2 separate regions of the Homo sapiens genome follow, and region 1 is linked to region 2. The links come from fine-mapping of genetic effects on gene expression. A gene starts in region 2. The other region holds a variant in brackets. All regions are shown on one strand. Distances are between the middles of the regions.

Region 1 (15,909 bases), 43 kb before region 2:
ACCCTCCATTCACAATAGTTCTGAGGGTTTATGTTAAAGAAAACGAATGAATTGTATGCCAAATGACTGGAATAGGAAGCCTGCCAAAACTTTAAGATAAAGACAGTGAAGAGATAAAAAGTAAAATCTTGAAATGAGTTAAGGACTCCAGCTGAAACCACTATCAGAGTTTACTGATATGAATTCCCAGGGCAATTGGGATAATTCTTTTAATAATAAGTAAGCCTGATACTCTTAAAGGTTGAAGAGACCTCAGTAGCTACCTAGTAAAACTTTTCATCTACCATACGATTTCTAGCTACAGCATTTCTAGCAGCCTATACTAGAATGTTTTCAGTGATAATATCTCTCTGTCTTAGAAGACTTTCCATTTTAATTTAAGGATGTTCTATTTAGAAGTTTCTTTAGGGTAAGGTTAAATTTACTTCGTTGTATATTCTAACTATTGGTCATAGTTACGAACTCTTGATCTATGAAAACTTCATAAGAAAATTTTTAAAAATTAGTCTACATTTTACACAATTGGACATTAGTATTACAAAAAGAAATAAGATTCCATCCCTTTAGCCAAATAAATTAGTCAGGCTTGTCTGGGTAACAGATTTAAGAGTTTAGAGAGTAAAAAGTGGAAGAAAATTTATCTCATTGCATAACGAGAAGACAAAATATGAAGTACTGTGAAGCATGTACTGGAAGATTATGAGAAAGCCGGGCTGCAGGAATCATTAGAACATCTAGTCTGAGAATTTAATTAAAGCATAATAAAAATGCTCCAAAAGAAAAGATATTAATGAAATGAAGAAGCACCAAGAACACAATAAAAACCAAGTGAAAATAATAATTATAGAAATATAGTGTTTGAAATAAAGAACACTTTGAGGAGTTAATTAATAGAATGGACGCTGATTAAGAATGAATAAGACCTAGGAGATGCTATTAAAAACATGACAGAAAAGAAAACAGTTAGAAAATATAAAATAAAAGCTGAGAGATATGAAAAATAGAAGTAGAAATGCCACCTTCTAGATAACAAGAATCTGAAACAGAGAGAGAGAAAAAAAGAATAGCGGATAGGAAATATTTGAAGAAATAATATTCCAACTTCTAAAACTAATAAAAGCCAAATACCTCAAACTGAAACTTCAAAAGTGTACAAACAAAATAGATAAGAAAAAAACATGCATCTGGCACAATAGAGTGAAAGAAAAATATACAAAATTAAAAAATGAGATAATAGGAGACGTTAGTGAAAAAGAGAAGAAATGAGAGGGATAACAAATCAAATGGTGGCTATTAGAAAAGACGAGAGAACTAGATGTCTAAAAGTTTGCAGAAGACGATACAATAAAGAAAATATCAAAAAAGTACAAATAATCACAAAAACCACAAATATTAAAATTTAATAAAACATTATGGAAATAATTCATCAATTATTATGGGGCAAACTCTGTTCCCTTAAAATTTTATATATTGAGGCTCTAACCCCCTCTACCTCAGAATGTGATCTGGTTTGGAGATAGTGTCTTTACCACGTTAAAATTAGGTCGGTAGGTTGGGACCTAATTTAATATTACTGGTGTTCTCATAAAAAAGGAAAATTTAGAGACGGATCCATATACAGGGAGAATGCCATCTTCAAGCCAAGGAGAATGGCCTGGAACAGATTCTTTCCTTACAGGCCTCACAAGGAACCCATCCGACCAACATCTTAATTTCAGACTTCTTGTCTCCAGAACTGTACGACAATACATTCCTGTTAATTTTAGCCGCCCAGTTTGTGACAACTTGTTACGGCAGGCCTAGCAAACTAAAACACTAATGCGCTTATAAATATTAAAAAAAGAAGGTAGAGGTCTAAAAAATATAAAATGCCAAAATGTAATGAGAAGAAATAAATAATTATAGAATTATAGAAATTAAAAATAAATACATTGAAAAGGCAACTAAAATAGAGTAATCTACTGATCTTTCAAGAAATAGCTAATTTTTGTATTGGACATCTTGCTTCAAAAAACAGCAAAATGAGAAATTTACCCCGATTTAATAGACTTTTTGATTTCCAAACAAAGTCAGAACAAGACAAAAAGAAACAGACTCATCTTCTTATGAAATTAGAAGTAGAAATTCCAAGAAAATATTTATTTACTATATACAACAAAGCAGTTAAAAATTCATATACAAGTGGATTTATGTTAGGAATGCTTAGATATCAGAATATCAGTGCAAAAAATATTAAAATTTTTTGAAAGAAAGTCCACACAATTATTCAGTAAGTGCATTTGATAACAACAAGGAAACATGATAACATTCAATGTCTATCTGAGATAAGTCCCTGTTAAGAAACTAGGAATAGAAAAATTCTTTTTTAAATTGCTAATGTTGTATGTTAAATTTATACAGCATTTTTACAGTGCTTAATAATGAAAATTTAAACATTCCATTTAAGATTAAAAACAAGAAAAAAATGTTCACTGTAACTACTACTGTTTAGCAATAGTGTAGTACAATGCTAAAGGTAACCAGTGATATAAGAAAACAAAAGGAATTATAAAGGACAAGGATTGCAATGGAAGAGTTGTATCTGCAATATTTTCAGATAATTTGATTATATAAAAATAAATACCAATAGAATCAACTAGAAAACTATTAAAAATAATACCAGAGTTCAAGAGGGTTACTTAAAAGAGCACATTTAACAAATCAATACTATTTCTGTATACTAGAAGTGTTGTTTTTATTTAGTTTTCTCAGCTTTTTTTTTGTTGTCACTGTGAGAACAGTAGGGATGACTTCCAATCTATTGCAAATATCACATGCCAGAACAGGAATGAAGGACATATATTTTAATTAAAAATAAAAACTGCTAAAGAATTTTCCAAAACACTTATACATTTTTGTACTTCAACCAGTTGTGTATGTGTTTCGGTTCCCCTATATCCTGCTAACACTTGGTGCTGTCAGTCTTTTTCATTTTAACAGTGCAAGTGGCATGTAGTCATATTCCATTGTGGTTTTATTCTGCATTTTGCTTGTGACTAATAATATGGAACATCTTTTATGTGCTTATTGCTCACTTGCGTGTATTCTTCTGTAAGTATTTGTTCAAGACTTTGGTTCTTTTTTTTATCAAGTTGTTTGTACTATATCTCTAAACTACAGACCTTTTAGTATTTTCGATACCAGTCTTTTTTGCATACACATATTGTGACTATTTTCTCCCAGTCTGTAACTTGCATATTTATATTCACAACAGTGTCTTGTATCTTGAAATGGGCAGAGGTTTCTTTCTTTCTTTCTTTCCTTCTTCTTTCTTTCTTTCTTTTTCTTTTTTAAGACAGAGCCTCACTCTGTCACCCAGGCTGGAGTGCAGTGGCATAATTCTGATCACTGCAGCCTCCGCCTCCTGGGTTCAAGTATTCTCCTGCCTCAACCTCCCGAGTAGCTGGGATTACAGGTGCCTGCCATCATGCACAGCTAATTTTTTGTGTTTTTAGTAGAGAAGGGGTCTCACCATGTTGGCCAGGCTGGTCTCAAATTCCTGACCTCAGGTGATCCACCCTCCTTGGCCTCCCAAAGTGCTGGGATTACAGGCATGAGCCACTGTGCCCAGCCCTTAAATTTCAATTAAATTCAATTTATCATTTTCTTTTAATTTTACACTGTACTTTCTCTTCTTTCTCTAAGACAGCTTTACTAATTCTCATGGTCACAAACTATTTTATGTTTTCTAGAAATTGTATGGTTTCAGGTTTTATGTTCAGGTCAATAATACGTCTTAAATAAATTTTGTAAGCTGATGTTGTCGTATGGTAAAGCCTTTTTTTCTCAATTGTTTCAATACCTTTTGTGTAAGACATGGCTTTGCCCACAAATTACTATTTTGGGTGTCTGAAATTTGTGCAGTGGTTTTTATCTTTTCTTCTTCCTTGTTCTTCATTTCTCCCTAATCTTGAAAAAAAAAACACATTTTATGTTTTCTATCTTTAGCTATTGTTTCTCTAGATGTAAGATAAATTACCAAACTCTTCTTCCTATCAAACATTCTCTTTGTAAACATCTCAGAATCTGGCTTCTCTCAATCCAGTCTTGAAATTACTTTATTGCACATTATCTGTAGTCTGGTGATCATGAAAACTAGTAACTTTTTCAAGTTTTCATTCACTAAGGCTGCTTTAAGTTCTGAAGAAAGAGAGAAAACATGACTTCTTTTTAAATTTTTCTTTCTTCAAGTCCTCTTTTCTGATATTTAAATATATGTATGTATATGTACATGTATATATACATACATATAAAGCATATATATGCATATAGGCATGCATACATATATATAATCTGTGTTTATGCATATATGCACGATATACACATATAGTCATGCACCATAGAACAATGTTTTGGTCAATGACAGATTGCATAACAACAATGGTCCCATAAGATTACAATGAAGCTGCCTTGTAAAGGTGTACCATTTTTGATCTTTTATATGGTATTTTCACTGTACCTTTTCTATGTTTAGACGCAAGCATTTAGCATTGTGTTATAATTGCCTGCAGTAATTAGTACGATAACATGCTATCCAGTTTTGTAGTCTAGGAGCAACAGTCTGTAATATATAGCCTAGGTGTTAGTAGGCTATACTGTCTAAGTTTGTGTAAGTACATTCTATGATGTTCCAACAATGACACAATCACCTAAAGGCACATTTCTCAAAATATCTCCCCATTGCTAAGCTATGCATGACTGTACACACACACACACAGACACACACATACACGCACATTCTTCCTAGATTGTTTCTACATCTACTAATGATATATCAGCTACAATTACTTTATCATTAATAGAATTATTATTTGTTCTTAACCTCATAGCATTTCCACGAGTGTCAAATCCTGAGTTTTCTCTAATTTTGTTTGCTTACCACAAATAAATAAATTACTGCTTTTATCTTGAATATTCTCTGGCTGAAACACATTGTTTATTTCCTCCATGGCTTAAAGAATAAAGAAAAATATATCTCTCATTTAAGGTCTTCTGTCATGACCTTATGACTCCTTTCTTTCCTGTCTTTAATCCTATTGCCTTATATATCTGTTATAAACATTTGCTCTAATCGTGGACCTTTTGATGATCTTTATGCCTTTTTGCTTAAAATCCCCCATTCAAACTATTTCTACCTTTTAAGTAAACTTTCCTTTCCTTTCCTTCCTCATTCCCCCAAAACTCAGTGATTTCTCCACTCACCACTCTCTCGAGCCGAACAGCTATAGCAATCATTTTTTGGTACTTATCTTCCTTGCACTTTTTGATGGTTTGCTATCCTTTGTTATTTTGAGATGTATGTACTTGATTGAGGGTTTCCTGATTAACAATTATAGGAGAGGAATACACCAGTAATAATATCGAGTCAGTGTTTATTCAGAAATTGTAAAATATGTGTTGATTTAATTTGCAGTTCCCAAGTTGATACAAAACTGGAAGATTGGCCTTATGTGCTTCCTGAGTATTATTATTACTACAGTTTGCATTATTATGATAGGTGAGTGGTTTAATTCATACACTTTCTATGGTTCTTCACTCCTGAAGGGTCCATGTATATCTCAAGTTTAACTCCAAATCTCCCACATCTAGAGTGATTAAAGGGTTTTATAGACACTTGTCCTCAAATTTTTACCAGTTCAACAGTTTTTACCATAATCCTTGCCTCTCCCCCAAACACTCTCAGTTTTACAATAGAATTATGTTCTTGACTTTATAGTCCTTGATGCTTAAGAAAAATAATCTTAAATTCTTAGATGACCACCAGATGGCAACAGCAATAGCGATGTTACTGAAATGCCAGGGGTTCAGTCTAGGTCCCATTGCTCAGGGCACAGAAAGCCAATCCCGGAGACAATGACTATTCCCGAATTAGGGAGGGGTAGGGAAGAAGAGTTGGTCAACAGGGAGCAGGTGGTCGGTTAGACAATCATGGCAGTGAGGAGTCCCTTGTCTGGAAGTGGTGATCTGGTGACTTTCGGTTTCCTGTTACTATCTGAGAGGACTAAAGGTCAGATTCCTAAAGAATGAACTCAAATAAGACAAATGTAAGTTTCAAGTTTTAAAACTAGGAGGATCAATTTCTATATTTATAAAAAAAAATCCCACATAAACATCAGTTCTATGGGCTTGTTACAGATAATTTTCTTTTTTAGAGTTTGTGAATTAGTGAGCTAATGTTAAATACACTATGCTCTGCTATTTGTATTTAATCCTCATTAGACTAGGATACAGGTATAAGAAAATCCATTTACAGATAAAAAATATACAGGACAGAATGAGTAAGTTGCCTCTCACAAATAATACATTCCAGACCTAGGATCAAACACCTTGGCTGTATAACTCTAATGCTTGATAAATTTTAAAAACCATGCAGCTTGACCTTCATAATTGTAGCATTCCTTTAATTTCTTTTTAATCAAGAGTAAGTTATGTCACTAATAGTTTGTTCTATAAAACTTTATTTATTTCTATTAGTTGGAATGCAAAATCTTACCTCTACCCGCTCAGGGTTTTTCTGCGGGCCTGAGAATGAAATTGACACAAGACACATCAACTTGAGCAAAGCACATGCGTTTAGTTAATATAAGTTTGACGTGACATGCACGTCTTCCTTATGAAAGCCTAAAGATGCAGGTAGAGTTGAACACTTATATATTGAATTCAACAAAGGGTAATAAATTATGAAAATGTGGCAAGGCAAAGAGGTTTGATCTAGGGTAATTAATTGGGTAGAAAAGTGACCGGAAAGATAAATGTTAAATTAACAAATGTTGTTTGCACACATTTCCTTTGGCCTCAACTACCTATCCTTGACTATAAGAATGTTGCTTTCCTTCTGGTATAGAGAAGATATCTTTCACAAAGGTATTTTATCTCCTGCTTATAAGAAAAATAAGGAAGCTCAGAGTGTTTTCTCTTGCATCTGCTGTTTTAAAAGTGCGTTTAACTCAAAAGAGTCTATATGCCTGAGTGACATATTTCGGGGCATCATGTTCTGAACTCCTTCACTATCATATTAAGTTAAATGAAAAAAAACAAAGAAATAACGGCATATGTGACCTTTTGCAAGACTGTCTCATTGGAATTGCAATATTTGTAAAAATGAAGTTGTTAAATTTCCTCTGGGTTCTATGGGTTTATTTTGTGAAAAAGATCCAAAGGTAGAATTTAATTCCTGAGCCATGGCCAAATAGTCCCCAGCACTTGATTTTCCATATGCATGGTTTGCTTAATTTAGCACTTATATTTGGCTAAGTAGCACTGCTCTTTGTTTTGTTTTGGTTTGATTGGGTTGGGTTGGGTTGGGTTGGGTTGGGTTTCGGTCATTCTCAAGAATACTGATAGTCTTCTTGTTTATAGTCTCTACTGTCAGTGTAGTCTTAGAGCTTAATGTTATTGCTGTCTAAACATCTGGAAGTTAAATATAGACAAGAGTTTCTACAGTAAGTTTTTATGTTCATTTATTCATTGATTAAAAAGAGCAGAAAGACAAAAGAAGACATTTATGTGGCCAGTAAACATATAAAGAAAAGCTCATCATCACTGGTCAGTAGAGAAATGCAAATCAAAACCACATGAGATACCATCTCA[G/C]GCCAGTCAGTATGGCGATTATTATTTTTTCTTTTTTTCTTTTTTTTATTATTATACTTTAAGTTCTAGGGTACATGTGCACAATGTGCAGGTTTGTGTTACATATGTATACATGTGCCATGTTGGTGTGCTGCACCCATTAACTCGTCATTTACATTAGATATATCTCCTAATGCTATCCCTCCCCACTCTCCCAACCCCACGACAGGGGGGCTATCCCTCCCCACTCCCCCAACCCCAACATCACCCCAATGTGTGATATTCCCGTCCCTGTGTCCATGTGTTCTCATTGTTCAATTCCCACCTATGAGTGAGAACATGTGGTGTTTGGTTTTCTGTCCTTGCCATAGTTTGCTGAGAATGATGGTTTCCAGCTTCATCCATGTCCCTACAAAGGACATGAACTCATCCTTTTTTAAGGCTGCATAGTATTCCATGGTGTATATGTGCCACATTTTCTTAATCCAGTCTATCATTGATGGGCACTTGGTTTGGTTCCAAGTCTTTGCTATTGTGAATAGTGCCACAATAAACATACGTGTGTATGTGTCTTTATAGCAGCATGATTTATAATCCTTCGGGTATATACCCAGTAATGGAATGGCTGGGTCAAATGGTATTTCTAGTTCTAGATCCCTGAGGAATCGCCACACTGTCTTCCACAATGGTTGAACTAGTTTACAGTCCCACCAACAGTGTAAAAGTATTCCTATTTCTCCACATCCTCTCCAGCACCTGTTGTTTCCTGACTTTTTAATGATCACCATTCTAACTGGTGCGAGATGATATCTCATTGTGGTTTTGATTTGCATTTCTTTGATGGCCAGTGATGATGAGCGTTTTTTCCTGTGTCTGTTGGCTGCGTAAATGTCTTCTTTGAGAAGTGTCTGTTCATATCCTTCACCCACTTTTTGATGGGATTGTTTTTTTCTTGTAAATTTGTTTAAGTTCTTTGTAGATTCTGGATATTAGTCCTTTGTCAAATGGATAGATTGCAAAATACCTAATGCATGCGGGGCTTCAAACCTAGAAGATGGGTTGATAGGTGCAGCAAGCCACCATGGCACATGTATACCAACGTCACAAACCTGCACACTCTGCAGATTTATCCCAGAACTTAAAGTTTAACAAAACAAAACACAACAAAAAGAGCACAGAGACAGAGTTGAAACACATTATATCTTACACCCTGTGTAGTAGCCTGTATCCACTTCTGAGCACTACAAAATAATAATAATAATAATAAATCATGGTGGAGTAGGGGGTGCAGCCTTTGGAGTTTGCCCTACATTTGAGCATATAGTTGGCTCTTTATTACTTGCATTAATTTATTCAAACATGTGGAATGCATGGACTTGTCTTATTCTGAATACTTAGCACCTAAATAAAACCTTGAGACAGTAAATCTCCAAACAATGTGCTTTCATTATTATTCCATATTCTTCAGCACTGGATGTAAATGAAATGAAACAAAGGTTTCACTAATTCTTATGTTTCACTTATGTGTTGTCCTTTATGGCAAGTTTCACTTTCCTAGCTTGGGTGTTTTCATAGGTAAAGGAAAGCCTCCATTTCTTACCCTAACCTCGAAACCTAAATTACATGCAGATCTCCAGCACTCTACCTTGATTGCAGAATTTATAGCTACATTTTATGCATTGTTTTTGGCAGGATATTAATATAGATTATGAGAAGCTAGTGGTTCCATTTCTCAAAATAGAAGCCAGGGAAATAGAAAAAAGTATGCACTGCTTGATCACTAAATGATCTTCCTTACAGACAGGGGAAGTTAATTCATCCTCATTCTGGGGAGGGGGGAAGCTAACTTACGGGCCTCAAACTGTGGAAGCAAAAAGTAAAATTAATACACCTGAATGAGTAGAAACACTTTTTAACATATGCTTTATCTGATCATTTCTTTCTTTTTTTTTCAGCCACATGGTCCAAGCATGCTAAACCTGTGGCATGTTCAGGGGACTGGCTTGGAGTGAGAGATAAGTGTTTCTATTTTTCTGATGATACCAGAAATTGGACAGCCAGTAAAATATTTTGTAGTTTGCAGAAAGCAGAACTTGCTCAGATTGATACACAAGAAGACATGGTAAGAAAACAGAAAAGTCTTCAGTAATTTCAGAGATTGTTTGTATAAAAACATAATAAAACAATAATAGCTAATACTATAATACAATTGATCCTTGAACAACATGGGTTTGAACTGTGTGGGTTCACTTATACCTGGATTATTTTTCCTCTGCCACCCTTGAGACAGCAAGAGCAAACCCTCCTCTTCTTCCCCCTCCTCAGCCTACTCAATATGAAAACAACGAGGATGAAGACTTTTACGATGTCTTCACTTCCACTTAATGAATAGTAAATAGATTTTCTCTTTCTTGTGATTTTCTTAATAACATCTTCTTTTCTCTAGCTTCCTTTATGGTAATAATACAGCATATAATTCAAATAACATGAAAATATATGTTAATTTACTTTTATGTTACCAGTAAGACTTCCAGTCAACAGCAGGCTACTAGTGGCTAAGTTTTCTGTTTTTGTTTTTTGTTTGTTTGTTTGTTTGTTTTTAAGACAGAGTCTCACTCTGGCACCTAGGCTGGAGTGCAGTGGTGCAATCTCAGCTCACTGTAGCCTTGAATTCCTGGGATCAAGCAATCCTCCCACCTTAGCCTCCTGAGTAGCTGGGACTACAGGTGCAGACCACCACTCCTGGCTAATTTTGTTTATTTTTTGTAGAGATGAGGTCTCACTATGTTGTCCAGGCTGGTCTCAAACTGAGATCAAGCAATTCTACTGCCTCAGCCTCCCAAAGTGCTAGAATTAGCATGAGATACCATAAACAGCATGGTTAACTTTTTGAGGAGTCAAAAGTTATATACAGACTTTTGACTGCACAGGCGGTCAGTGCCCCTAACTGCCACATTGTTTGAGTCAACTGTGTATGACAATGTGTGCTCAACAGTGTTCTAAGCACTGAAACTATATAATCTCATGTAATCTTCTACTAACACCCATGAAGGAGTTATATAACTCTCCCTACTTTAAAGATGAGGAAAGTCAGTCACAGAAATGTTATGTAACCCAGCCAATGACACAGCCATAAGTTGTTGGGCTGGGATTTGAACCCAGGCAAGATGACTAGTGATGCCATGTCCTTTACCACAATGCATACTGTTTATGTATCTAAATGTCTTCGTTAAATGTTCTTAGATTATTAAGTAGATTTTTTAAACCCTTTTCAATTTGCATTCTACCAAGCATAGACAGAAAAAATTTTTAAAAATACAGCTCTTAGAATTTAGAGACAAGGAAATGAAGGAAATATGTGCACTTCGAAGACGCGAGTGAATTAATGGAAGTAAAGAGGGCAAAGAAGGAGACACGTGGACTCTAGGGACACAGAGTAAGAAAATAGATTAGTTTTTAAAGAAAAGCTGGGGGTTGGAGAGTGGCCAAGATGGCCGACTAGAAGTAGCTGGAGTGCGCAGCTCTCAAAGAGAGGAACTGAAGGGGTGAGTAAATACAGCACTTTGAACTGAAACATCCAGGGTACACGCAATGGAACTAATCAAGGAAACAACTCAACCCATAGACAATGAAGAAAAGCAAGGCAGGTCGATGGCCAACCTGGGAACGACATGGAGCCAGGGGAACTCCCCTCGCCCAGGGAAGTGGTGAGTGAATGTGCAACCCCTGGAACCCATGCTGCTCCCATGGATCTTTGCAACCCTCGGGTCAGGAGATCCCCTTGTAAACCAACTCCACCGGGGCCTTCAGTCTGACACACAGAGCTAAGTGGAGCTTCAAAAGAGCAGCCTCTCAGGCATGTGCAGTGACCCGGGAGCCTCAGATAGCCAGGAGTTCCAGGCTTCCCAGCAAAAGTAGTTGAAACTCCAGCGAAGAGGGAGGTTAGACCCCCTTACACATCCCTAGTAAAGGGGCTGAATCCAGGAGGCTGAGCAGCGACATTCTGCAGGACCCACTTCCATGGCATCTCACAGGATAGGACCCACTGGCTTGGAGTTCTAGCCAGCCATCAATAACAGCATTGCACCTCCCTGAAACAGCTCCCAGAGGGAGATGTGGGCAGCCATCTTTGCTGTTTGGGTGACTTAGCCATCCAGCCTTCAGGCTTTGGAGAGTCCAAGTTGACCAGGGGTGGAAGTGGTCCCCCAGCACGGCACAGCTGCTCTACAAAAAAGTGGCCAGACTGCCCTTGTAAGTGGGTACCCAATCCCATTCCTCCTCACTGGGCAGGATCTCTAACCAGGGTCTTTAGCTGCCTCCTACAGGTGTTCTTGGGCCGGTAATAGCTATGTACCTCCCTGGCACAGAGCTCACAGAGGGAGGGGCAGGCCACCTTCTTTGCTGTTTTGTAGGCTTCACTGTTGGTACCTACAGGTATCAGAAAATCCGAGGTAAATAGGGACTGGAGATGGCCACCAGCATACCACAGCAGCCCTATGATAAAGTGGCCAGACTGTTACATGAGTGCCCATCTCCTTGTCTCCTCACCAGGAGGGTCCTCCAGGCCTGGGCCTCCAGCCCCCCTCGCAAGCGCTATTGAGCCAGTAGCAGCTCTGGAATGTCTTAGAGAGAGCCTCCAGGGGCAACAGGAAACCTCTCTGCCACTGCCTCTGCACTGGAACTGCCCTTGCTGCCCTCAGACTAATGAAGGAGCAAAGACCCTAAGTCTCTCATCCACACCTCCAACAAGTTGCAGGAGAGGAGGCCAGTCCATCTCCACAGGCTCTGCTCACCCACCTTGCTCATCACCAGACATGGAACCTCCAGCTTGGGCCCACAGCAGAGACCCTCCATCCTGGGCTGATTGCACTGAATGATTGCTTACTTGCATCTCTCTGGAGTGAAGCTCCCAGGAGAAAAGCAAAAGACCATTGGCTTTAACCACTACTAAGGTCTCTTCCATTGCTGCCTCCAAGTTGGGGAAGAAACATAAACACTGAGATCACCCAAGAGCTGCAGTGGGCAGCCTAGAATTGCCAAGTCACAATCTATAGCCAGCACTCAAGTGGGAGAGAAACCCACATTTTCAGAACATTGAGAGAGAACATGGCTGCAACTGTGAGGAAAAGTAAGGGAGTCACACAATGGATCAAGAGTCTCCCAACTGACAAATACGTCCAAGCGCAACCTACTGGATCACACCTCAAATCTTCAACACCAAAAATATCTCACTAACATAACCCCCTCTAAAATTAAAGAAGTCACCTTCAAATAAAGACCCTGCACAAAGCTTCAGCCCTATGAAAACAAACAGAAAAGAGATCTATCGACTGTACTAAATATACACTGCAGTTAAATTGACACCCACTGCAGAGATGAGACAGAATTAATGCAAGAACTCCAGTAACTCAAATAGTCAGAGTGTCATATGTTTTCCAAACAACTGCACCAGTTCTCCAACAAGAGTTCTTAACGAGGCTGAACTGGCTGGAATGGCATTGAACTGACAGAAATTCAATGCTATTCCTGTCAAACTACCAATGATATTCTTCATGAAATTAGAAAGAAAAAACTATTTTAAAATTCATATGGAATCATAAAAGAGCCCAAATTGCCAAGGCAATCCTAAGCAAAAAGAATAAAGCTAGGAGCATCATGTTACCTGACTGCAAACTATACTACAGGGCTACAGTAACCAAAACAGCATGGTACTGGTACAAAAACAGGCACATAGACCAGTGGAACAGAATAGAGAGCCCAGAAATAAGGACACACACCTACGACCATCTGATCTTTGACAAAGCTGACAAAAACAAGCAATAGGAAAAGAACTCCATATTTAATCAATTGTGCTGGAATAACTGGCTAGCCATATGCAAAGGATTGAAGCAAGACTCCTTCCTTATACCATATACAAAAATCAACTCAGGATGGATTAAAGACCTAAATGTAAAACCCCAAACTATAAAAAGACTGGAAGAAAACCTAGGCAATACCATCCTGGACATTGAAACAGGCAAATTTCATGACAAAGACAACAAAAGCAATAGTAAAAAAAAATGCAAAAATTGACAAATATTATCTAATTAAACTTAAGAGTTTCTGCACAGCAAAAGAAACTATTAACACAGTAAACAGACAAACTACAGAATGGGAGAAAACTTTTGCAAGCTATGCATCTGTCAAAGTCTAACATCAGCATCTCTAAGGAACTTAAAACAAATTTACAAGAGAAAAACAACCCTATTAAAATTGGGCAAAGGGCATAAAGAGACCCTTTTTAAAAGAAGACATACATTTCACCAACAAACATGAAAAAAAGCTCAACATCACTGATCATTAGAGAAGTGCACATTAAAACCACAACGAGATATCATCTCACACCAGTCAGAATGGATATTATTAAAAAGTCAAAAAACCACAAATGCTAGCAAGGTTGTAGAGAAAAGAACACTTATACACTATTGGTTGGAGTGAAAATAGTTCCACCATTGTGGAAAGCAGTGTGGCAATTCCTCAAAGAGCTAAAACCAGAACAACAATGGTTGCGGTGGTGTTTACGTGATTGACTTATGATTCTTTTGTTATGGATGAGTTAATTTTTAAATGACTTTTGTGAACTAATGAGTCTGTCTACTTTTATCTTTGATCTAGTACTGACATGTATATTTGGATTGGGTAAGACTCACTTTTAATTAGTTAATTGTTCTGTTTAACACAGAAGTTTGTTCAGTGCCTATGTAAATGATGTACATAAAACACTTTCCAGTCCTCTCCTATTGATCTCAATTAGCATATTGCCATAATTAACCCAGAACTATGTGATGGCAGATATGACAGATATAACTATTGGTTAGTGGGCTTAATACTTGGGTGATGAAATAATCTGTAAAACAAACCTTCATGACACAAGTCTACCTCTGTAACAAACCTTCACATATATCACAGAACCTAAAATAAAAGTTAAAAGAACAAAAAGCTAATGAAAGGTTTGTGGCTTAATAGCAAAAAGCCAATAGAGCAGTGACTAAAGCCATCACATAATAGATTTCATTGCAGTAAATTATATTTATATAGAAGTTAGTTTTATCTCTGATTATATGAAAAAACATACAATATCAGTGACATTCATACTAAAGGGTATCAATGACTTGGTTGTAGCCCAATTATCTGGAGATACTTAAGATGCAAAAAAGCAAAATGAAAATCTTTCTGATAAAACTAACCCAAACATCAACATCTGTGCTGTTTGTTGTTATAGAAGCATCAGGGAAGACAAATTAGAATGTGAATCCTAAAAGATAGAATAATTGGGGTGGGAAGCATGTTCAGCAATGTGCTGTAACATATTAAGTAATCGCTGATTCCCTTTGTTTTGTGAAAGGAATTTTTGAAGAGGTACGCAGGAACTGATATGCACTGGATTGGACTAAGCAGGAAACAAGGAGATTCTTGGAAATGGACAAATGGCACCACATTCAATGGTTGGTGAGTTTCCAATGTATTAGCAATGTTCTTATTCTGGTGTGTCATATGAAAAATTTTAAATCATTTTGAGTTGTATTATTATAAACAAATCTTTCTGTTTTCCATGTGGAATTAACTTTTCAGTCTCCAATCGATGACATATGCCCTTTCACATTGAAGCATATCCTAGAGCAACCCATTTTCTTCTCACCTTGTTAAATGACACATGGTGAAATCTTCCATTTTTATTTTTATTTGTTATTTTATCTTTATTATCAAGCTCTTGCTTGACAATTAGTTCTCTTTTGCTAATTCAAATTTAATCATTCTGCAAATTTTAAGCCAAAACTCACGTATTACTTGTACTTCTTTCCAAGTAAAGTGTATATAAGATTTCTTTGTCTTTAAAGGGTTAAAGACTTTATAGTTGTCTTTAACATTCCAAATGCCCACCACAATGAATACTACTTGTTTTTATTTATTTGTTGCTTATTTTATTTATTTTTATTTCTGTAAGCATTTCCTGGGTGGGTTAAAATTGTTAAAAGTGTTTCTTGGGTTAAAATGGTTGAGGATTGTATAGTTGTCTTTAGCTTTCCAAATGTTCATCATAAGCAATATTATATTTATTTTTTTAATTTTTGTTTATTTTTTATTTAGCTTACTTTTTTATTTATATAATTGTTTCTTGGATACATATGTATCTCTGCCTTATTATTTTAGTAACGTGCTAGATTAAAAAAAGCAACCAATAAAACAAATATTGAAATATGCAAGACAGGACAAATTATACTTATAAATAAGGAAAGATTTGTTTATCAACAAAGAAAATTA
Region 2 (15,909 bases):
TTAATCTACATGAAATATTCTGTGACACAGTTATTATTATAATATCCTCATTTGAAAGTTTAAAAAACTATGTTTAATTTGCCTAAATTCATGTGAACAGTTGGCTGAAATCTCTTGATTCAAACATAGGTCTATCTCAAGCCCACACTCTTCGCACTACAGCCTGCAGCCATTACATGTCACACCTATCAGTGGATGCTCGATAAATATTTGGCAAGTTAGGTATGGCAGGAAATCCACTATCATCCTGTTGTTGACTCACTAAAACCCTATTTTTTTTCCTCCTAGAAATCACCACAATTGTCCTGCCTTTCAACCATTTGATACACAGCAATGGCACTGAGGAAGAGGATGTCCTTTTCAGCCCCATACCTTTCTCCACCAGTGCTGTTGGCTTACTGTGTAACATGGGTGAACGCCAGGAAGAGGGAAGCCAAAACTAAATTTACCCCTAAGAGTAGCACATAACAAACAAAAAGAGTATTACCTGATAGACTGCTGACGTTTACATTCTGGGAGAAATCCATTTTTTTATCTGTACTCAGTGCAAAGAAAAGATATGAGAAACATTTAAAAATCAATAGCAATCTAGGTACATGAGAATAAAGTACCAGCAGAAAATGAAGGCATACTAATAAAAATTGTGAGTTTCTCTTCTCCTATGCATCCACTCCTCTTCTTCCCCAGATTTAACTACGTTTCGCCATATCTGTTTTTACTCCTTTAAGTGCAAATCACAATTCTATTTTTTAATTTTTATTATTTTTATTTTTTTTTTGAGACAGAGTCTCACTCTGTTGCCCAGGCTGCAGTGCAGTGGCGCAATCTCGGCTCACTGCAAGCTCCGACTCCCAGGTTCTCGCCATTCTCCTACCTCAGCCTCCCGAGCATATGGGACTACAGGCGCGCACCACCATGCCCAGCTAATTTTTTGTATTTTTAGTAGAGATGGGGTTTCATGATATTAGCCAGGATGGTCTCGATCTCCTGACCTCGTGATCCGCCCGCCTCGGCTTCCGAAAGTGCTGAGATTACAGGTGTGAGCCACCATGCCCGGCCTGCAATTCTAAATATTATGTGAGATCTTAGACTTCATGTATGATGTTACATTTTTGTATATTATTTTTTTCACTGGACTTTTTAATTGACATTCTGTTTTCTTTTTTTTTTTCATTTTTATTACTATTCTTAACTTTTTTTTTTTTTTTTTTTTGACACAGGGTCTGGCTTTGTCACCTAAGCTGAAGTGCAGTGGGCCATCATGGCTCACTGCAACATCTGGCTCCTGAGCTCAAGCCATCCTCTTGCCTCAGCTTCCCAAGTAGTTGGGAGTACAGGCGCACACTTCCACACCCAGCTAATTTTTGTGTATTTTTTTATTAGGGACGGGGTTTCACCATGTTGCCCAAACTGGTCTGGAACTCCTGGGCTCAAGCGCTCCACCTGCCTTGGCCTCCCAAAGTGCTGGGATTACAGGCATGAGCTCCAACGCCTAGTCTTGATCTTATTTTCCCTTGTTGCAGACCAAAAAAAAAAAAAAAAACTCTTTTGACCATATCATCAAGTTCCTTCAGCTTCCTAGTTGCATTATTTATAGTTTGTTTTCATATAGACAGAATTAATTGCTAGCTAGGAAAACAGAACAGTTGTTAATTTGAAAAGTCTTTTAATTATATTCTTGGGCTAGCTTCATTCTATCCAAAGTTAGCCACCCACCTCCCACATTCTTTTTTGCTGTTGTTATTCCAAAACAATGAATGGAAAAAATATTTACTTGATTACTCTTGTTTCAAATCTAAGTTAAAATCAAGATTGCTCATAACTTTGAAGGCATTGCTCCAGTAGAATCTTTTTAGGTGCGTTTAAAAATCTGATGCTAATTTGCTTTGGGGGAAAACTAATTATTTATGTAAACCCTTTAGGATTATATTTTTACTCATGGTGTTCTGAAATTATCTATCTATCTATCTATCTTTATCTATCTAATCTATCATCTCTTTCTATGTATTATCTGTTTTTGTATTCTGTTCCGAACTTAGTGGGTTCTTGTAAGCTGAAAACTCATGTTTTTTGGTTTTGCTTTTACTCTTGAGAAATGGTTTATATTACTTTTTTCATTATTTTATATCTACTTTTTTTCACCTATTTTCTTCTTCTGGAAGCTTGTTAAAAGAGCTATTGACCTTTCTGGATAAATAGGCATTTTTTGATTTTCCATCTCAGATATCCTCTTATATTTATTTATGTTTTTTTTCTGACATTTTGCTCTGTGCTCCGGGATATTTGGTTAGCTACCATGACTTTTCAGAAGAAATGGCACAAGAAATAGCCAAGCTATGTAGTAGACCTACACACTACTCCCCTCTCTCACTCCAAAACCAAAACAAGTGGGTATACACCTTATTGCACCGACCACCAGTCCATAAATCAGGAGCTCTACCTGGCTCTATCTATATATCTCACTGTTTTAGAGAGTTCTTCTCTCTTTTTTTTTTTTTTTTTTTGCATGATATAGGGGCAAAATCCACTGTGTAAATAGACCGACAGATTGACAAGACACCAATCAAAAAGAGCATGGCTTAGAAAGTCTTTCACTTAATTAGTTTGCTTCATATTTTTGGCTTTCAAAAGTTATTTTTAAATTTAATTGGTAATAAGCATTGTATGTATTAAAGAATTACCTTGTTTTAGACCTCCATTTACCCTCTGACTCTCCTCTCTGAAATGGAGCCCTGCCTTAGCTTAACCATGATGAACAGCTTTCATCTACACTGCAGCTGTCTTTTATGCTTTATTTGAACTAAGGTTCTCCCCATTGATTTATCCAATAGCATTATGCTATCCACTTTTCATTTTCTTTAAAATTTTCTCCCCTTTCCATTCTATGTGCTTTGATTAATTTACTCTATTTTGTTATCTTTTCTTCTTCTATGGATAGATTATTGGGAGAGAGGAGATATAAATATTTATGGTCAATACTCCATTTTGACTGGAAGCCATGAAGAATATTTTAAACTGGTCAAAACCCAAGGACAAATTTTATAGAAACACACATATTGTAATTGTTACTAATTTATTAGAATAAAAAATATGGCTAGAAAAAAATATTTTTACTACTAGTAATTCATCAACATGTCAAATTTCATTGATTTCTTCTCAATAGCGTTTTTCTTTAAAAGAATAATTATTGCATTATTTATGTCATTTTACCATTTATATTTTATTTGAAGAGAAAACTGATTTACAAGAGAGCAGAGTGGCCTGTAAAGGTCATACTCAGTGTCTAACAAGAAATTATCTCCTGAATTTTAGGAACATTTTTAAAGCCATAGTAATTACTACAGTGGATTCAACTTCTTAGAATTACTGGTTAACAGAAAGCAATACCTACTTAGATAGATTCATAACGACTAAAAATAGTCGTTTAACATTGAATGTTAAATAAGTGGACATTTTCAGGTAATTAGTAATTGATTTCAATGTTGCATTGAACAATTTTGAGGTATATGATTGATATTTAGAGAAAAAATACATTAAGTAGGATATATCTTTGGTCTGAGAAAAGTCTGATATTTTCCCTTGTTGTATTGGGAAAAACACAAAATTGCCCAATTGCCCAATACAAATATGGATCCTTTATTAAGAAGTAAAGGATCTTCTACGCTACAGAAGTTGCTTTAGGACTCACCTATTTTTAGAAATCTCATCTCAAAAGCCCCCAAAATCTATTTCCTGTCATGTTATATGTAAAACACTACTCATTTGAGCTCACAGCCTTAAAAGCAAGACAGAAAAATCAAAGATAATGAATTTCTTTGGTTGTTCAAATAGAATAGCTACAGTATACACATATAAGTACCACTTCAGGAAGAAAAAAGTCTGGAAGTCTACCTAAAATGGTTTTCAGATGGGTCTTAATATATATATATATATACTTAAATAATGATCTCACAAAGTGATACCAATGAGCACATACTCTTTTAGTAAAGATACATTACTTTTTTAATTATAAGATAATAAAGTCAACCTCTATTGGGGGTTCTTTATAAGAAAAGATGCAGAATAAATACCAAGCTTGCATTTGAGCATTTAATTTTTTAAATTTAATATAATTTTATAATATGACATATGCCAGTTTTGGACTACAGTGTAGAGTTTATCTTGGCATTAAGAGGAATGAAGGATCAACATTTATCTTCTGAAAATGTTCAAATAAATAAAAATTTACTACTCACGCCAGAACTTCAGGTCAATCCCTGTCATAATGAATATAAGGATCACAATGCATCCAAATATGAGCAGAAGACAATAATATTGTGGATATAGGGAGAAATCTGAAATGTTGAATTTTAGAATTCTTGTGATTATTCACTTTATAAATATTTTTCTGTTTCATTTTTATTACAGAGACAACTCATGTTCATTTTAGATATGTCATTAGAATTTATGATTAAATGAAAATCTAAAAATAAAAAGTCTAGAATCCCAAACCAAGGAGATACTACTATTATTAAACGTTTTGGATTGTACTGACATAGACTTGTTAATTATTTGGTGGTGTTTTTGAGGACCTAAAAATGATGTCTTAAATTCCATATAAATTATACATACAAATACATATTATATATGATATAAATATTTGTTATAACATATTATATAAAATATAAATATATACAATGTAAACATATATATTATTCTATACATGTAAATTATATAGAAAGAATAATATATAAAATGTATATATCTATGTCAGGCACAATTACGTGTGTTATTCAATTTAGTGACTCACTGCTAAGAAATAAAAGAGGGAAAGAAATATTTATTAAAATTCTATTATATACCAGTCACTGTACTGGAAATATCCACATTTTATTTCACCTTACACCTGTAATATATTATATTTTTCTGGGTTTGACTCTTTAGACAGGAGTCAGTTTCAGCTTAGGTAGTATTAGATCTCCAATTAATGATGCTTATATGACATCTATGCTATAGTATTTCATCGCATTAGAGTTGGCAAGAATAGCTTCCTTATAAAGGAATAAACAAGTAATCTCTAGAGAGGTTAAACAGGGGCATGTATAATAATCCTCTTTCAATTTTATCTACTTTTTTCCACATATTAGCACTTTTGAATAAATTGGATGTATACACTTTTTTCACAAAACTATGACAGGTTCCTTTTATATGCAGACATCATATAATTAATATCTCAATCTACAATCATTTTAGTCAGTTTGCCAGGCTAGTGGCCAAAGAGAAAGCAAAGTAATTTGAGATACTCTGATAATTATTCCCTATTTTTTATTCTTTTATCTATAAACAAACATTTAATTTCATCACCTTGGTTGTACATTTCACAAATAATTTGTCTTCTAAGTCATAATAAAAGTGCTGTTTCTCAAATCTAATTTCTGTGTGGATGCTTTACTTCAATAGGTTTTATGGATTTACTGCATTTGATTAGATCTATAGTATATACTTAGAGAATTTACTGTATGTAGTGTACCTTTTGAAATTTGCTACTCAATTGTCTGTATTACTAAGTCCAAAATAATTTTCTTTCTTTTTCTTCCCTGTAGATATTTCTGCTGTTCAAGCAAATATGGAAAGACTTCTACTTAATTGAAAATCGTCAAAATACATTTCTGCAATTTTATGAGAAAATATCAATCAAGGGTATATGGATCTGTAGTTAACAAGTGCTCTTTCCATACATGCCAGGGAGGGAGACTTTAAACTTCTTGCCAAATAAGATTTATAAAAAACTGAACAATAGACCAAAAATTAATATTTTCATGTAAGCCATGATTTACATACTATATCAAGCCAGGTGAACAGAGAGCTGAGTACATGAAGTGCAGTATGCTGGCCTATCCTAGCACTGCTTGGCTAGATGCCATTGGCTTACACAGGGCTATATGAAGAAATTGTCTTACAAAATCTGCTGGTGCTACTATTGCAAGAACACTAATTGTATTATTTTATGTGCTTCATGAGAACTCAGGAAAATATTTTTTCTGATTTAGGATCAAGATTAATTATATCAATCTTAAGGAATAGGTGTAACTTTATCTTATACACAATGTGAACTGAACAACTGGTAAGAATTCCCTTAGGTCAGTAATAACAAGGAAGCTTGGAAGCAAATGTATAGCAAGCACAAACATGCCTACAGTAATTTTTCTGGCCCAATTTATTTTCCCAGCCCTATCCTTCCTTCATTCATAATTTAAATGGATATTATCTTATATTTTATGTATCAATACTCAGATTTTAAGTCTCTGTACACATTTGTATATTAAAAAGTAGTTTATAGATTAAAAAATAGTAAATTTAGTTTAACATCCACATAAAAGCATCATCAGGTAGATTTTTCTTATTATATATCAAAGTATTGAGATTTAAGAAGGCTAAAAGCTTCTGCCCAGAGCCATACATTTAGTCTGTGGGCTTTAGGGTCTGAATAATTTTTTTTGTTTTTTTATATATGGAGTCTTGCTCTGTCACTCAGGCTGGAGTGCAGTGGCATGATCTCAGCTGACTGCAACCTCCGTCTCCCGGGTTCAAGCGATTCTCCTGCCTCAGCCTCCCAAGTAGTTGGGATTACAGGCACACGCCACCATACCCAGCTAATTTTTTTTGTATTTTTAGTAGAGACGGGGTTTCACCATGTTGGCCAGGCTGGTCTCGAATTCCTGACCTCAGGTGACCCGCCCACCTCTGCATCCCAAAGTGCTGGGATTACAGGCATGAGCCACCGTGCCTGGTCTGCCTCAGTCAATTTAACACCAATGGTACTAGTTTTTGCTGCATGGAAGTAAGTTACTATTGAAAAAGTAAACATTTGTTTCATGATATTGAAACACAAAAAAGATCTGAGTCTTCAGATAATAACAAAAGTGTCATTTTGTGGGGGCAGGGGGTGCAGGGGAAGTTTGCATTTGCTAGATATAAAATGAGATTGTACACGAGAATGTTCAATACATATGGCAGAACTGCCACTGCGACTGGTAATTCTGAATTTCTGGCCTATGTCATCTTAACTTAGGTCTTGGCTATTTCAACAAGATTGTTTTCAAAATTCCTGAAAAAGCAAACAAAGCCAACCACAGAGCAGCCCTAAGGAGCAAAGATTAATGTTTTTTTGTTTTTTTTTCTCTCTTCTCGCATTCCCAGTAGATTGTTCTACCAATCCTATAGGGCTTTTACGAAGATTAAAAATATTATATATGTATAAGCATAAATATATATATAAGCATATATATACGCTTTAAGTTTATATAAACTTTAAGTTTTGTAGGAGGAAGTTTCTGTAAAAACACAATTTTTCAGCCTTTTCTTCGAAAGTGATGTTCTTATGCTACAACACACAGGATTACACATCGTCATATTCGCATTTCTCTTACCTCATGGCTCTGAAAATGCAGACTTTTTATTGTTGATGCTTTCATGAATCTAAATAATCTAACAGACAATTTATGACCATTTTTATATTCCTTATTATGATCAATGTTAAGATGTTAAAAATATTCTAAGATAATTCTCTTCCTAGAAGAATAATGAAATTTTAAATGCGGTGATGGGGAGCAGTATTCCTACCTTTAGATTTCTGCTTCGATTTACAACGATTCTTGAAACTCAGCGTCATATACCCATCTTCATTCTCCATCTCTTCAAATGTCTAATGTCTTATTATCCAGAAAATAGTACAAAGAAAATGGAAACTAATCTCAACCTTGGATATGTCTCTTTGGCACAAGGTACTAAAAGAAAACTAAAAGGAAGGCCAAAAATAGTCAAAATTTACTCAGACACAGATGTCTAAAACCACACAGGATGTGTTGGTAAATGAAAATGGATATAAGCTTGTTAATATCTGGCTACAATTCTGTGAATTTCAAGGTAAAGGTAGCTAGTGTGTTCCACTGTTTTCAACAAATGGACTTGTGTGTTCCTGCCACTTGTGTGCGGTGTATTAGAAACATAATTCCTTCCTTCATGTCTTTTATAATAAAGTAAGAGAAAAAATAAAATAAAACAAATAATCTCTAAACAAACAGAACAAATGTCTAGGTAAATAAAAATTCAAATTAAAAAAGTTAAAATAGCAATTTTGTTATTTGGGACATATTTGACTAGTAGAGTCCAAATAACGATGGTTAGATGGGACAAAAATAGGAAAATAAAAGATCAGCAAGTCTCAAGTTAGTGAAAATCGGAATCACTTGCAAAGAATTTAACTTTTTAAACTTTTTTGTTTGTTTGTTTGTTTTTCAGAAAACGCCAGGCAGATTTTCCTTCAGTAGGTGTGGCAGTTTATTTTGTGTCAACTTGGCTGAGTCACAGAGAGTCCAGATAGTTGATCAGACATCATTCTGCTTATTTCTGTGAGGGTGTTTTTGGATGGGATTCATATTTAAATAGGTGACCTTTGAGTAAGGCAGATTTGCCTCCTCTGTAATGTGACTGGGCCTTATTGAGTCAGTTGGAGCCTTGAATAGAACAAAAAGACTTGTCTTCCCTGAGTGAGAGAGAATTCTCCAGCAATGGCCTTCAGACTATCTGCAGCATTAGCTCCTCCTGATTCTACAGACGGTGGACTTTGCATTTGAATTGAGCCTTCCTAGGTACCCAGTCTGTCCATGCTCATTTGCAGAATTTTGACTTACCAGCCTCCATAATCACATTCCTTATTTTATATATATTTCACTTAACACGCACACACACACACACACACACACACATGCTAATGGTTCTGTTTCTGCTACGTGGCCACTCAATATCAATCCATTGATTTAACACCGAGTGTCTGGGGAAGGTGGCTGACTGTTTCCCACAGCACATGTTGTGTTCACCTGATTATTGAGTCTCCTCCTCAACACTGGATGTCACTTGTGAGTATTTACATGGGAATGAATATTTACACACGCCGCGTCCATTCTGCATGATCTCTATATGTACCTCTTAGCTTCTCATTCATTTTTCTATTTTGTTCTTTTTGAGTTTCCGACAAGTCATCTCACCTATTAGTTTCTGATAAGATGATTTAGATGTATTTCTCTGAGTGCTTATCCTTCCTGTTAGGTTCACAACCAGACATATTGTCCAAACTTCTGTTCAGTGGGAAGACTTACCTTCACTTCTGTCTTTCACAGTCTTCTCCTGAATGGGACTGTAGTGTGGCATCTATTCCAGCTGCCGTATTTTACATAACCACTGATAAACTTATTTTTTTCAACTACTTCAGTGTAAGATCGTACAGAACCCTCTTTTCCATCCCCAACCCGGGTCATAGGTATGGTTGAGGTGGAGATAGCAAAGGAATGCGAACATGTGCCATCGGAGTCTGAGCCATCTGCTCATGCAGTTTACTGTGCTTCTTTGGAACTGTTCAGGCCTTGCCTCCAAAATGGCACAATTATGTTTGTGATAAAATGCTTCTGTGCACTTCTAAACATAGGGTTCATTGGGTCAAAGTGGTCAAGTTGGATCAAGTTAATGGTGGTGAACATATGTCTTATAAAAATATGTAGTAGGTTTACTGCCTACTTTTCACCAGGAACAGTTGGCATGATAGCATCAATGTAATGAATCTATTGTGTGCAACCAGTTCTGAGGTATAACATATTGGGAGCTATATCAAGATGATTTAGTTCCCTCTGGGCCATCTTATAACAGAGATCAGGAGAGCTGACATACACCTGGGCAAGGCAGCAAAGAAATACTTGTTATTTCTGTTTGTAAATACAAGCCGGAAACCATCACAGGTTCTCAGCTTTTTCCCAGTGTATAGTCATTCAAGAAAATGACTGAAGTTTCCTCCGGTTTAGGTGTTGGGGAATAAATATCATAATTACACCTGTGGCCATGTTACAATGTCCTTCACCAAGAGACCAAACCTACCTCCTCCCCAGTTGAGTGGTTCCTGGTCTGCGAAGAGCTTTGCCTACTAACTATATGGAAGTCTGGGGATTGGGTAAGACACAATGAATCTCCTCTCTGAAAATACGGGCTAAGTTTCTGGGCAACATACATGTAATTTTCCTTAGCATATCAAGCAGCTCCTTAGTGAAATATCCTTTTTTGTTTGTTTTTCTTTTCTTTTCTTTTTTTTTCATTTCCCAAAACTTAAAATCAGCTAATCATTGTCACAGATTTCTGTGGATGAAAACTCTGATTACTAATCATTCCCTCTGGCTTATTGTGGCAACTGCAACCCCTTGACCTCTAGAATCAAATTATTGCCGTTGATATCAGAAAGCCTGATTCCGCTGTAGCATCTCCCAATACATCTATAGTCAACAGTGAACAGTTGCCACAGCAGGTCGTCACCAGGTTCCCTCACAAAAGCATTCTCCATCCCCCCATCCTCCTAAAAAATCGGTTCACAAAACTGACCTTGAAGAGAGGAAATCAAAGCCTGGAGGAGGCTGTAGAAAGGAGAGAGAAGGTGGTCAATGACTGCCTAGCCTCCTCACTGTATAAAAGGTAGCAACTTTAAAACTGTTCCCCCACCCTCCATCCTGGGCGCCAGACCCCTCAGTTCTACCCAAGGGCCATCAAGTACCTTCAGAAACTTCTCTTCCCTTTACCTTCTATGCCTGGGCCAATTCTCTCAGTATGGGTCTAACAGATTTGGTGGGATTGAATGCTGAAATATTTTAGAGTATCAAAACTTGAAGATGTCTAAAATTTGTATCTTAATGTTTTTCCCAAACTATAGATTTATTCAGTGTTCTCTATATAGTTAGTAATTAAGTTCTGTCAGTTTAACCCCCTGCGTATTTCCCTAGTAAATTCATTACTTCCCATTTTAAAAGCCATCATCTTGGCTCAAACTCCGTGTGGGCTGACATTATTCCTTCATGGCATTTAGTCTCCTTTTGCCCTCTCCCCTTGGCCCATATAAAACAAAAGAGTATCTTTAAGGGTTGAGATACTCAATAAATCTGATGCCCCACAAATCCAAAATAGACATAGAAAATGTGCATCTTTTACAAAATTCATATCCTCATGTATGAATTAGTTAATAAAAGGAAGTCTCCATTCTCTCCAGAAACGTTACAACTTCTACGCTTCTGAAATTTAGAATTTCCCACACCCATACCAGATTATCATTTTAATCTTAAATGGGCATTTTTTTTTTCAGACAGGGTCTTGTTCTGTTACCCAGGCTGGATGTAGAGGTGTCATCATAACTCACTGTACCCTCAAACTCCTGAGCTCAAGTGATTATAGACACATTTTTAATCTGATAGGCTGCTGCATTGTTTCACTTTAGATTTCTTGGATTTTCATTGTGTTTAGACAACTTTGGATACACTGACTGTATATGCATTGTTATGGGTTAACTATTTGTGCCTTGTTCATTTTCTGTTACTAATGTATTTATGACTATTCCTCTGTATATATTCATTCGTATATTGATTCATTCAATAAGACTTTTTGAATATATGTTATGCTACAGCCACAGTTCTAACCACTGAGAATACATCAACAAGTAAAACAGATAAACCCCTCTGATTTCATGACTTCGTGGAGCTTTCACTCCAGTGGCAGAGACAGAGACACATGTTACCCATTGCCCAGGAGTTCATATATGTTTTAAATGTGAGTTATTTTTATTGTCTTATGAAGCTCAGTTAGTGGTGCTGTCGTGTAACCATCGTCCAATTAGAGCTTTCATCTACATCCAAAACAGACCTTTCTGAGAACCAACTAAACTTTATTCCTTGTTTATCAGCAGGTAATAGGAAATATCTTAAACAGCCATAGACATGAGCCGAGGGAGAGGTGCCAGTGAAACAGTTGGATAGTATCATTAGTATCATTTCTGAAGCTTGCCTGTGCTCTCTGGTTGGCATAGGGGTCTTCAGCTTGCCTTTTCACTGAGAATCTGCCTGTGCTGATTCTGGATATACCAATCTCATCATATAATGAATTGCTGCTGGGAGTGCCTGAACTTATATTTGGTGAGTCTTACAGGTTTCTCTTTCCTTTTTTTCTTGAGAGGGAGTCTCGCTCTGTCACCCAGGCTGGAGTGCCATGGTGGAATCCTGGCTCACTCAACCTCTGCCTCCCAGGTTCAAGTGATTCTCCTGCCTTAGCTTCCTGAGTAGCTGGGATTACATGCACCCACTACCACGCCAGGCTATTTTTTGTATTTTTAGTAGAGACGGGGTTTCACCATGTTGGCCAGGCTGGCCTTGAACTCCTGACCTCAAGTGATCCACGCGCCTTGGCCTCCCAAAGTGCTGGAATTACAGGCATGAGCCACTGCGCCTGGGTGGGTTTCATTTTATTAATGGCAGTTCAGAACATACGGATGCCTGCTGACTCACATCCAAGTAATCTATTTCTGCAAGGTCCAGTAGCATGCCAGGAGCTATTTCACAAAAGCTCTATAAATGCTTAGCTATAATTGACCTGGTATTGCTCTAGGACTCAAAGGATCAGTAGAAATTATGTTTCACCCGTTAGGACTTGGCCATAAATTCCACAAAATTTTTTCTCACCGTTGATACCTCTGGTATTACACAGTGCGGTAAGTTACATGGCTCCAGTGGTAGAGATGCTTCTGCTGCAGCCAGATTTGCGGAGGAGTCCATGTTTACTCTCTGGGCCACGATGGGAGCCTTGCAGCCTTTTGTGTCCCCTAATGAGAGGTGACAGCGTGCTGGCAGTCCTCACAGCCCTCGTTCGCTCTGGGCACCTCCTCTGCCTGGGCTCCCACTTTGGCGGCACTTGAGGAGCCCTTCAGCCCACCACTGCACTGTGAGAGCCCCTTTCTGGGCTGGCCAAGGCCGGAGCCGGCTCCCTCAGCTTGCGGGGAGGTGTGGAGGGAGCGGCGCGGGTGGGAACCGGGGCTGCGCGCAGTGCTTGCGGGCCAGCGCGAGTTCCCTGTGGGTGTGGGCTTGGCAGGCCCCGCACTCGGAGCAGCCGGCCGGCCCTGCCGGCCCCTGGCAATGAGGGGCTTAGCACCCGGGCTAGCGGCTGCAGAGGGTGTGCTGGGTCCCTGGGTCCCCCAGCAGTGCCGGCCCACCCCCTGCTCCACGGCACCCAGTCCCATCGACCACCCAAGGGCTGAGGAGTGCAGGCGCAGGGCGCGGGACTGGCAGGCAGCTCCACCTGCAGCCCAGGTGCGGGATCCACTGGGTGAAGCCAGCTGGGCTCCTGAGTCTGGTGGGGACAAGGAGAACCTTTATGTCTAGCTTAGGGATTGTAAATACACCAATCGGCACTCTGTATCTAGCTCAAGGTTTGTGAACACACCAATCAGCACCCTGTGTCTAGCTCAGGGTTTGTGAATGCACCAATCGACACTCTGTATCTGGCTACTCTGGTGGGGCCTTGGAGAACCTTTGTGTGGACACTGTGTATCTAGCTAATCTGGTGGGGATGTGGAGAACCTTTGTGTCTAGCTCAGGGATTGTAAACGCACCAATCAGCGCCCTGTCAAAACAGACCACTGGGCTCTACCAATCAGCAGGATGTGGGTGGGGCCAGATAGAGAATAAAAGCAGGCTGCCCTGGCCGGGAGTGGCAACTGGCTGGGGTCCCCTTCCACACTGTGGAAGCTTTGTTCTTTGCTCTTTGCAGTAAATCTTGCTACTGCTCACTCTTTGGGTCCACACTGCCTTTATGAGCTGTAACACTCACAGCGAAGATCTGTAGCTTCACTCCTGAAGCCAGCGAGACCAGGAGCCCACCGAGAGGAAGGAACAACTCCAGACGCGCAGCCTTAAGAGCTGTAACACTCACCGCGAAGGTCTGCAGCTTCACTCCTGAGCCAGCGAGACCACGAACCCACCAGAAAGAAGAAATTCTGAACACATCCGAACATCGGAAGGAACAAACTCCGGACACGCCGCCTTTAAGAACTGTTAACACTCACCACGAGGGTCCGCCGCTTCATTCTTGAAGTCAGTGAGACCAAGAACCCACCAATTCCAGACACACCAATATGTATGTTAGAACTCTATTTCCAAGTACGAACAATGGCCCTTCAGTATCCAATGAAGACTACCAGACATTGTGTCCTCTATTTTTTTAAAGAGATGCCCTGGCGTGCACCAAACCCATGTAAACATAAAAATTTCACTGATGCACTTTGGGAGGCCGAGGCGGGTGGATCACGAGGTCAGGAGATTGAGACCATCCTGGCTAACATGGCGAAACCCCGTCTCTACTAAAAATATAAAAAAATTGGCGGGTGCCTGTAGTCCCAGTTACTCTGGAGGCTGAGGCAGGAGAATGGCATGAACCCGAGAGGCGGAGTTTGCAGTGAGCCGAGACTGCGCCATTGCACTCCAGCCTGGGCGACAGAATGAGACTCTGTCCAAAAAAAAAAAATTCACTGATGTGATGCAGTGGCCATTCAATCTTTGCTGTATTCACAACTCACTGAAGTGTATGCATCTTACCAATGTCTCCAATGTACTTGCTCCTTCTTTCTCATCTAGTTCAATTTGTATACTGTCATTAGCACAGTGAACAAGAGTTAAATTTTGTAGGCTGTCCAAGCAGTCCAGGTCTCTTCACTATATTATGATAGACAGTGGGACAGTTAACAGACCTGGGGCAAGAATGTAAGTGTCTACTCATGTCAGCCCTAAATAACTACCAAATATTTTTGGTACTCATTTGTTAAAAGAGATAAAAAAATAATTCTTTTGCCAAATTAATGGCCATATTTTCTGTACCTGAGCATAGGGTAATTTGCTTTAACAAGTATTCTGTATTTAAATCAGCAGCTACACTTGGAATTATTGTTTGATTGAGCTTGCAATAATCAATTGTCATCATCCAGAATCCATATAGTTTTGTCAGAGCTGCACTGGTGAATAAAATAGAGGTAAATGGATACCAGCATCCTTGTGTCTTTGAGGTATTTATGGGTGGCAATAACCTTTGTCATTCGCTCTATAATGCAGAATTATTTTGGGTTGACTATCATGTCCAGTGGAGAGGAGGGGAGCAGTTTCAGGAGCCTTGGTCTTTCTCACCGCAGTACATACCAAGCTGGCCAAGGAACCAATGTGAACTTTGTACCAATTCTTAAGTATGTGGTGTCCCATTATGTATTCAAAGACCAAAGAATGTCTACTGGGTGAGTCCTTGGGCCTACTGTGAACCAGACATAAGCAAATACTCTATTACTGGGACTCCATAAGCTTCTACTCTAACAGGAGGGTCATGATCCTTTCTTGGGAATCAATGTCAACTTACATCTGCATTCTGTAATCCTAGAAATGTATGTCCTGGATTTTTTCCCAGTTATTCAAATAAATGGCCATGAATCCTGTTGTGAACTGATTTGTGCTCCTATCCAAACACATATGCTGAAGACATAACCCCCAGTGTGACTATATTTTAAGAGAGTGTCTTTAGGAGGAACCTAAGGTTAAATAAGGTCATAAGGGTAAGGCCTTAATCTCATAAGACTGGTATACATATAAAAAGAGGGAAAGATACCCTCTCTGCACATACACAGAGAAAATGTCATGTGAGGACACAGTGAGAAGGCAGTAGTCGGCTCCAGGAAGAGAGACCTCATTGAACACTAACCTGGCTAGCACCTTGATCTTAGGCTTTGAGCCTCCAGAATGATGAAAAATAAATTTCTGTTGTTTAAGCCACCCAGCCTATGTTATTTCATTATGGTAGCTTGAGAAGCCTAATATAAGTCGCACTGGGGATGGACTGGAGAAATACTTACCATTTACTCTAGTCTTGGTGTTGAAGAGGGCTTCTTTTTAAGGATGAGTTCTCCCATTATTGGGTCCTCTGTCAGAAAACTGGCTTGGGCCAAACTAGATTAGGGTAATAGTTTATACGTTTTGAGTACATGGTTGCCCTTAGCCTACTAGTAATCCACCCTTGATTTCTTTCCCGTTGTACATGTCC

Evidence for each region. PIP is the estimated chance that this variant, and not a neighbour inherited with it, causes the effect.
Region 1: its variant is fine-mapped to the expression of KLRF2 in sun-exposed skin (GTEx, PIP 0.97).

What each region holds. Positions count from the first base shown.
Region 1 is chr12:9,915,887-9,931,795 of GRCh38, reverse strand. It overlaps CLEC2A (C-type lectin domain family 2 member A), which reads left to right. Exons shown (of 5, transcript NM_001130711.2): 2 at 5,453-5,536; 3 at 9,564-9,730; 4 at 14,993-15,096. Among named protein-coding and RNA genes, the nearest start is that of CLEC2A, 8.5 kb to the left of the region's middle. The variant G/C (reference allele first, on the strand shown) is at 7,630.
Region 2 is chr12:9,873,359-9,889,267 of GRCh38, reverse strand. KLRF2 (killer cell lectin like receptor F2) reads right to left here and starts at 7,779. Exons shown (of 6, transcript NM_001190765.1): 1 at 7,603-7,779; 2 at 4,236-4,334; 3 at 488-535. The coding sequence starts at 7,672. It also overlaps a transcript of CLEC2A not described here.